2 separate regions of the Homo sapiens genome follow, and region 2 is reported to be linked to region 1. The links are microRNA targets in miRTarBase. Many come from high-throughput screens and were not tested one by one. Region 1 holds a microRNA gene; the other region holds the end of a gene's coding sequence.

What was found. Region 1 holds the annotated microRNA hsa-miR-3690 (ACCUGGACCCAGCGUAGACAAAG, at 1,770-1,792, opposite strand). A microRNA usually pairs through its seed, bases 2 to 8, with sites in the 3' UTR of a target mRNA and lowers its output. Matches are read on the target gene's strand: a 7mer-m8 pairs with bases 2 to 8, a 7mer-A1 pairs with bases 2 to 7 and ends in A, and an 8mer does both.
Region 2: the mRNA of SDR9C7 is a reported target of hsa-miR-3690. Seed matches in the 3' UTR shown: 7mer-A1 at 3,027-3,033.

Annotation. Positions count from the first base shown.
Region 1 is chrX:1,291,719-1,295,718 of GRCh38, reverse strand. MIR3690 (microRNA 3690) reads right to left here and starts at 1,801; the gene lies at 1,727-1,801. It overlaps CSF2RA (colony stimulating factor 2 receptor subunit alpha), which reads right to left. Exons shown (of 13, transcript NM_172245.4): 8 at 1,258-1,391; 9 at 263-292. It overlaps LOC124905238 (a long non-coding RNA gene), which reads left to right and starts at 1,721. Exons shown (of 3, transcript XR_007068370.1): 1 at 1,721-1,790; 2 at 1,834-1,876; 3 at 2,137-2,173.
Region 2 is chr12:56,920,413-56,924,412 of GRCh38, forward strand. It overlaps SDR9C7 (short chain dehydrogenase/reductase family 9C member 7), which reads right to left. Exons shown (of 4, transcript NM_148897.3): 4 at 2,721-3,638. The coding sequence ends at 3,421. Among named protein-coding and RNA genes, the nearest start is that of SDR9C7, 12 kb to the right of the region's middle.

The DNA.
Region 1 (4,000 bases):
CCTCCTTACACTAGGTGTGGTGAGTAGGGGACTGTAGGGTTACGCTGGAGGTCGTCAGTAGGGGACTGTAGGGGTCATGAGTAGGGGACTGTAGAGTTACACTAGGTGTGGTGAGTAGGGGACCGTAGGGTTACGCTGGAGGTCGTCGGTAGGGGACTGTAGGGGTCATGAGTAGGGGACTGTAGAGTTACACTAGGTGTGGTGAGTAGGGGACCGTAGGGTTACGCTGAGGGTTGTCAGTAGGGTCTGTGGTTTCACTTACCAGTAGGTTTTCCGTGCCAGGCTGGGTATTCTAGAAACAAAACAAAACACAACACAAGGCTCACTGTTTCCATTTCTAAAACACTGTAGATGGTTCACACAGTGTCTCCCCTGGTGTGGGCACCGAATGGGAAGGAGTCCCTGCGGAGTGGCAGGCAGGTCTCCCTCCACAAACCCCGAATCTACAAGACAGGTAGGATGAGGAGCTGCAAACACAGAAGTCTTCCTGGCCAGATATCTTCCTGTAACCCATCCAGAAAGGTCCCACTGGCCTTGGGGCAGGGTGTTCTCCTGTCGTCCAGGTAGACATGGAGCAGGCTCTCCTTCTTGTCTACACTGGGTCCAGGTGGTTGTGGGACAAGATCTCCTCTTGTCTACACTGGCTCGAGGTGGACATGGGGCAGGGTCTCTTCTTGTCTACACTGGGTCCAGGAGGTTGTGAGACAAGATCTCCTCTTGTCTACACTGGATCGAGGTGGACGTGAGGCAGTCTCTCTCCCTGTCTACACTGGGTCCAGGTAGTTGTGGGACAAGAACTCCTCCTGTCTACACTGGGTCTCCATGGAGGTGGAGCAGGGTCTCCTCCTGTCTACACTGGGTGTAGGTGGAGGTGGGGTCGGGTGTCCTCCTATCTACACTGGGTCCAGGTAGACATGGGGCAGGGTCTCCTTCTGTCTACACTGCGTCCAGCTGGAGGTGGAGCAGAGGCTCTCCTTGCTTGTGGCATCGTCCCCCACACCTCCCGGTCCACTTCCTGGTTCCATGGTTGCAGGATCATCCTTGTCCACCCTCCCTGCAACCTCTTTCAAGGTGGCTCCACAGGCCACAGACCCTTCACCTCTTCCTCCGCTACCCGAAGTGCGTTCACCCCAGAGTCACCGCTCACCACCCACGCATCCTTCCCCCAGGCCACTTCCCCGGGATTCCCAGGCTCCTGTGCGGGCGTGTCCCGTACGCCTCCCTCCTGGTGCCCAGCCCCGGGGAGCTCTCACCGACCTTTCTGTGGACGTCCAGCTGGTACTGAAAGTCCAGGTACGACAGCTTCTGATAGGTCCTGGGCTGTTTCCACCGTACGAGGCAGTGCGTCGTGTTGCAACGTACGGTGACATTGCTGGGAGGGTTGAATCGTTCTGTAACGAGGGCGCAGGACACACCCCTGAACCCGAGAGGTCCTGTCTACACTGGGTCCAGGTGGAGGTGGTGCAGAGTCTCCTCCTGTCTACACTGGGTCCAGGTGGAGGTGGAGTAGGTCCTGTCTACACTGGGTCCAGGTGGAGGTGGAGTAGGGACACCTCTTTGACTACACTGGGTCCAGGTGGAGATGGGGCAGGGTCTCCTCCTGTCTACACTGGGTCCAGGTAGAGGTGGGGCAGGGTCTCCTCCTGTCTACACTCGGTCCAGGTGGAGGTGGTGCAGTCTTCTCCTGTCTACACTGGGTCCAGGTGGAGGTGGGGCAGGGTCTCCTCCCATCTACACTGGGTCCAGGTAGATATGGAGTAGAAACACCTCTTTGTCTACGCTGGGTCCAGGTGGAGATGGGGCAGAGTCTTCTCCTGTCTACACTGGGTCCAGGTGGAGGTGGGGCAGGGTCTCCTCCTGTCTACACTGGGTCCAGGTGGAGGTGGTGCAGAGTCTTCTCCTGTCTACACTGGGTCCAGGTGGAGGTGGGGCAGGGTCTCCTCCTGTCTACACTCGGTCCAGGTGGATGTGGACTAGGGACACCTCTTTGTCTACACTGGGTCCAGGTGGAGATGGGGCAGGGTCTCCTCCCATCTACACTGGGTCCAGGTAGATATGGAGTAGAAACACCTCTTTGTCTACGCTGGGTCCAGGTGGAGGTGGGGCAGGGTCTCCTCCTGTCTACACTGGGTCCAGGTAAATGTGGAGTAGGGACACCTCTTTGTCTACTCTGTGTAGGGAAAAGAAAGAGAGATCAGGGGGCTGGGCGCGGTGGCTCACGCCTGTAATCCCAGCACTTTGGGAGGCCGAGGCGGGAGGATCACGAGGTCAGGAGGTCGAGACCATCCTGGCTAACACGGTGAAACCCCGTCTCTACTAAAAATCCAAAAAAATTAGCCGGGCGTGGTGGCGGGTGCCTGTAGTCCCAGCTACTCGGGAGGCTGAGGCAGGAGAATGGCGTGAACCCGGGAGGCGGAGGTTGCAGTGAGCCGAGATCCCGCCACTGCCCTCCAGCCTGGGTGGGCGACAGAGTGAGACTCTGTCTCAGAAAAACAAACAAACAAACAAAAAGAAAGATCAGACTGTTACTGTGTCTATGTAGAAAGGAAGGTAAGAAACTCCATTGTGATCTGTATGTTGAACCACTGTTTTGCCTTGAGATGCTGTTAAGCTGTAACTGTAGCCCCAACACTGTGCTCACAGAAACATGTGCTGTGTCTTGTTAACAATAGGTTTGCAGGCAGCATGCTTGGTAAAAGTCATCGCCATTCTCCATTCTCTATTAACCAGGGACACCATGCACTGCGGAAAGCCGCAGGGACCTCTGCCCGAGAGAGCCCGGGTATTGTCTGAGGGTTCCCCCCACTGAGACAGTCTGAGATATGGCCTCGTGGGAAGGGAAAAAGACCTGACCGTCCCCCAGCCCGACATCCATAAAGGGTCTGTGCCGAGGAGGAAGTCCTCTCGCGGTTGAGATAAGAGGAAGCCCTCCGTCTCCTGCCTGCCCCTGGGAATGGAATGTCTCCGTGTAAAACCCGATCGTACATTCGTTCTATTCTGAGACAGGAGAAAACCGCCCTGTGGCTGGAGGCGAGATATGCTGGTGGCAATACTGCTCTGTGACTCTTTGCTACACTGATGTTTGTGTGGAGAGAAGCATAAATCTGGCCTGCGTGTGCATCCAGGCATAGTAGCTTCCCTTGAACTTATTTGTGACACAGATTCCTTTGCTCATATGTCTTCCTGCTGACCTTCTCCCCACTATCACCCTGTCCTCCTGCCACATTCCCCTTGCCAAGATAGTGAAAATAGTAAGCAATAAATACTGAGAGAACTCAGAGACCGGTGCAGGTCCTCCGTATGCTGAGCGCCGGTCCCCTGGGCTCACTGTTCTTTCTCTATACTTTGTCTCTGTGTCTTATTTCTTTTCTCAGTCTCTCGTCCCACCTGACGAGAAATACCCACATGTGTGGAAGGGCTGGTCGCCTTCACACTGGGTCCAGGTAGAGGTGGGGCAGGGTCTCCTCCTGTCTACACTGTGTCCACGTAAATGTGGAGTAGGGACACCTCTTTGTCTACACTGGGTCCAGGTGGAGGTGGTGCAGTCTCCTCCTGTCTACACTGGGTCCAGGTGGACGTGGAGTAGGGACACCTCTTTGTCTACACTGGGTCCAGGTGGAGGTGGTGCAGGGTCTCCTGTCTACACTGGGTCCAAGTGGAGGTGGTGCAGTCTCCTCCTGTCTACACTGTGTCCAGGTAAATGTGGAGTAGGGACACCTCTTTGTCTACACTGGGTCCAGGTGGAGGTGGTGCAGGGTCTCCTTCTGTCTACACTGGGTAAAGTGGAGGTGGTACAGGGTCTCCTCCTGTCTACACTGGGTCCAGGTGGACGTGGAGTAGGGACATCTCTTTGACTACACTGGGTCCAGGTGGAGGTGGTGCAGTCTCCTCCTGTCTACACTGGATCCAGGTGGACGTGGAGTAGGGACACCTCTTTGTCTACACTGGGTCCAGGTGGAGGTGGTACAGGGTCTCCTCCTGTCTACACTGGGTCCAAGTG
Region 2 (4,000 bases), not on the chromosome of region 1:
TTCTAGGATGAGAAAAATGTTTTATATTTTGACTGGTGGTGGTTGTACAGGTGTAAACATGTGACAAGACTCATCAGATGGTACACTTAGATGGATGCATTTCTTTTTATGCAAACTTTACCTCATTAATGTTGATTAGAAAAAAAGGTAAGCAGCCTCCCTGGTCATCTATTACATTGTTATATTTTCTCTTCTCCATGGCACTTATCAGTATATAAAATTATTTCATTCACTTTTTATATGTCTATTGGCCAACCCCTCCCTCCGTTAGAATGTAAACTCTTTGAGGGCAAGGACTCTGTCTTATACCCCACTATAACTCTAGAATCTGGAACCACATTTAGCACATAGTAGGAGCCTGATAAATTCTTCTTGACAGACTGACTAATGATTAAAGTCCATCAATGGTTCTACCTCCAAATTATATATTGACTTCATCTATTAGCATCATTTCTGCTAACACCATTTCAGCTTAGGGCACTATCATCTCTTGCCTGGATTATGCAATGGCCTCCTTTCTTCCACCATTGCTTCTTCATTTCAGTCTCCACAGAGCCCCCCAGTGATCTTTTAAAAATATAGATCAGATCACATTACTCCCCTACTTTAAAAATGGAGATAAAAATGATTAAGAAGCTGAATAAATGAACAAGAAAAGGCAATTCAAAACTCCAGGAAAATACAAAAGTTATATAAGAAAGGTGATGGTTCTAATATGAAATCAACCAAAATGTAACTCTGGAGCATATATGAATCTCAGCTCATAAGTTCAAAAAATACCTCAGCTATTAATGATGAGGTGGAGAGATGGCCCTCAGACCAAAAAATTAAGTCTTCTATCTTCTAAAGGTTACCACTTTAGTGTCTGCTGTTCCAGTCTACATGCCCTTTATATCTAGCAAATTTCTACTACCTTCCTGCCATGGTGGGACACATGAGTCTCCTGTGAGGTCATCTGAAGTCGAATCTGCCTAAACATACAATGTAGCTGTGACTCTCTTGAGTCTTGTCACCTCCCCATGGTGTGCCCCCAAGGTGCTCTAGAAAGTGGGCCCTGGTCCCTCCTGTCCTGGGAACCCCAAACATCAACTTCTTATCTCATCAGAGTGAATCTCTTTGTCATAGGGGAAAGTCTCTTTTTCTCTGAGTCATTTGGTACACCCATAAGTCACATTCTGTTTTACTTCTTTCCCACAACTCTATAATTTTTCTAAATATATCAGGGTTGGGGGAAACTAAAGCTGGAAAAAGTGCAGGAAATTTATGTGTTTTATCCCATCAAACATCTCACCCTAGGTAAAGAAGTACCAAATTGGCTATCTATTTGAATGGAAGAAGGGGAAATAAAAAAAAACAGGGAGGAATGAAAAAGTGTAAATTATTATCTCAAAATATTACCTAGCCAGTTTCCCCTTAGTAAATTTTTGTGTCTTCAGAAAATTTATTTTTGACCTTTGTTCAACCCTCTCAACAGCATAATGTCTGAGTTTTGCATTTTCCAAGGTAGTAGACATTGTGACTGATTTCCCAACATCCCATCTGTCCCGTGATTAATCTAAGCAATTCATGGCAATTTACCTCTTTGCCAGGGGTGGACAAGCCTAAACCAATTTGGGCCAATGAGATTCAAGGAGACACATGATGAGGGCTCTAAGAAAGAAACTTCTTCAATGTTGAATGCTGTGGAAAGGCAGGCTCTTTCTTCTTCTCTAAGTTGTGAATGAGGAAATGTAGAGTTCCCTTTGCCTGGCAGTCACACCACAGCAACAAAGGGTAAAGATAAAACTGTGGGCAGCGGAGCAAAGAAGTAGAAAGAGCCTACAGCCTCAATGCCATCATTCAGCCACTGGGCCCTGCCCTCACTCTTCATTGTCTAAGCCAGTGTGAGTTGGTTTTTCTGTTACTTGTTGAATGCATTCTATCTGATTTAGAATTTGGTGCCAGGAATAGAAGTGCTGCAAACAACAAACTGTAGTGAGTTGCACAGTAGCTCCCTAAAGATATATCTATAAGCTAACCCCTGGAACCCGTGAGTGTTACCTTATTTGGAGTCTTTGCAGATGTACCTGGATTATATTTTATTATTTTCAGATGTTGAAGAGACCCAAATTAAAGATATTTTAGTTAAAAAAATCACATTTGACCTTTATTACATGACCATTTATCAAGATAAAAAAAAAAGTCTCTTCCACAGAACTTCATATGACCCAGGAGTTTAAGTCTTTTTTTAAAAAAAATTAGTTCAATGACTTATTTGACAGTGTTACTAATTTGAGAAATTGATTTTCCTATAACTGAAAAATAATCCTGGTCTGGGAGTCTGAATGCCTCATTTCTATCCTTGTCTTAGTTACTAAACTGGGGGCTTGGGTAGGTCACTTCCCCCTCTGAGTGTTAAGTTACTTATTCTATGGAATTATTGGTGGCTCCAAGTTGCTCGGGTGCATCAGAATCATATAGGTCCTTGTTATAAACACATATTTCTGGACCTTATCTCAGTCCTACTGAATCAGATTTTCTAATATTGGCACAGGAGTCTGTATTTTTTAATTGACTGGGTGATACAAGGTACAGCCAAGCTTGTGAAGTATTGGATGAAGACCTCCAGGGTCCTTCATAGCTCTAAAAATTTGTATTCTGATTTCTATTCCTTCTATCGCTGTTTGTCCTAACTCAGCTACTAGATATTGTGCTAAAACAAAGCAAAGCAAAACACAAAATAAACAATAAAAAACCAAGACCATGATTTAATCATCTTTATATTCCCCCAGCACCTACAAAGTGCCCGGTAGGTAGTAGGCACTCAATAAATATTTGAAAAATTAATGGTGATTAAATAAATGAATGTTATTTCATGTGGATCCCAATAACCTATAGATAGAAGAATCTAAAAAGAAAGAAAATATTTTAAACTTTTGTCTGATTTAATCTTGCACTCCCTATCTGCCCTACCGCATACTTCAGTAATGGGTTATGTGAATGAAGTTATGCATATTGAGGGACCCATTAGGAAGGTGGTTAGATTCTCCTGGAGGCAAGATTATCCCACAGTATTTCTCAGTGGCAGTGATAACTGAAAGGGGCTCATGATTCCACAGGAGCTGGTTTTCTTCTCCATGACTTTTCCAGGACCAGAAAAAGCTGTATCCTGATTGGGTGACAGACGTCCTTGGAGCTATTGCTGCAGATCGCTGAACCTGCAAAGACCACCTCAGGTTTCTGTGGGGTCCCAGAGGGTGGGAAGAGGCATTCACCTTCTGTTAGAAGTTACTGGTAAATTCGACAGCAGTGGGTGTCAGCTGAGCCAAGCTTCCTTTGCAGCCAATGCCCCCAGGATAACCGATACCACCTTTTGTGACCCCACGGTCCTTCCTTCCTCCCCCACTTCTAGGCTCCACTGACCCATTGATCCTCCCCAGTTTAGACACTGTCCGCTGGCCTTGGAAGGTACCGGCTTAGGATGAAATCTGTCACAGGGGTGGGCAACTTAGCCAGAGGGATGTAGAGGAGTTTGGCATCCAGGCCAGGGTTGTAGCGGATGCGAGGGCTCCGGGAAACAATAGCATGCTCCATGCTGTTGATGACATCTCTGACTCTGGGCTCTGCCACCTGCATTATGTTTTTTAACTTGTCAGTATCTGTTTGAGGGCAGAGAGGGGAAAAAGGCTCTGTTATTCTTCATAAAAGATGGCTTCTTCCGAATTCCATCCAAGTTCCCTTTCCATCAGATCCCTGATCTAACATTTCAGGCAGGTCCGCCACACCCTCCAGGTGGTCCCTTATACAAACACACATTTATAAGACTATTATAAATAATCTTAGCCTGGCCAACATGGTGAAACCCCATCTCTACTAAAAATATAAAAATCAGCTGGGCTTGGTGGCACATGCCTGTAATCCCAGCTACTCGGGAGGCTGAGGTATGGGAACCACTTGAACCCAGGAGGCTGAGGTTTCAGTAAGCCGAGGTCACACCACTGCACTCCAGCCTGGGAAACAG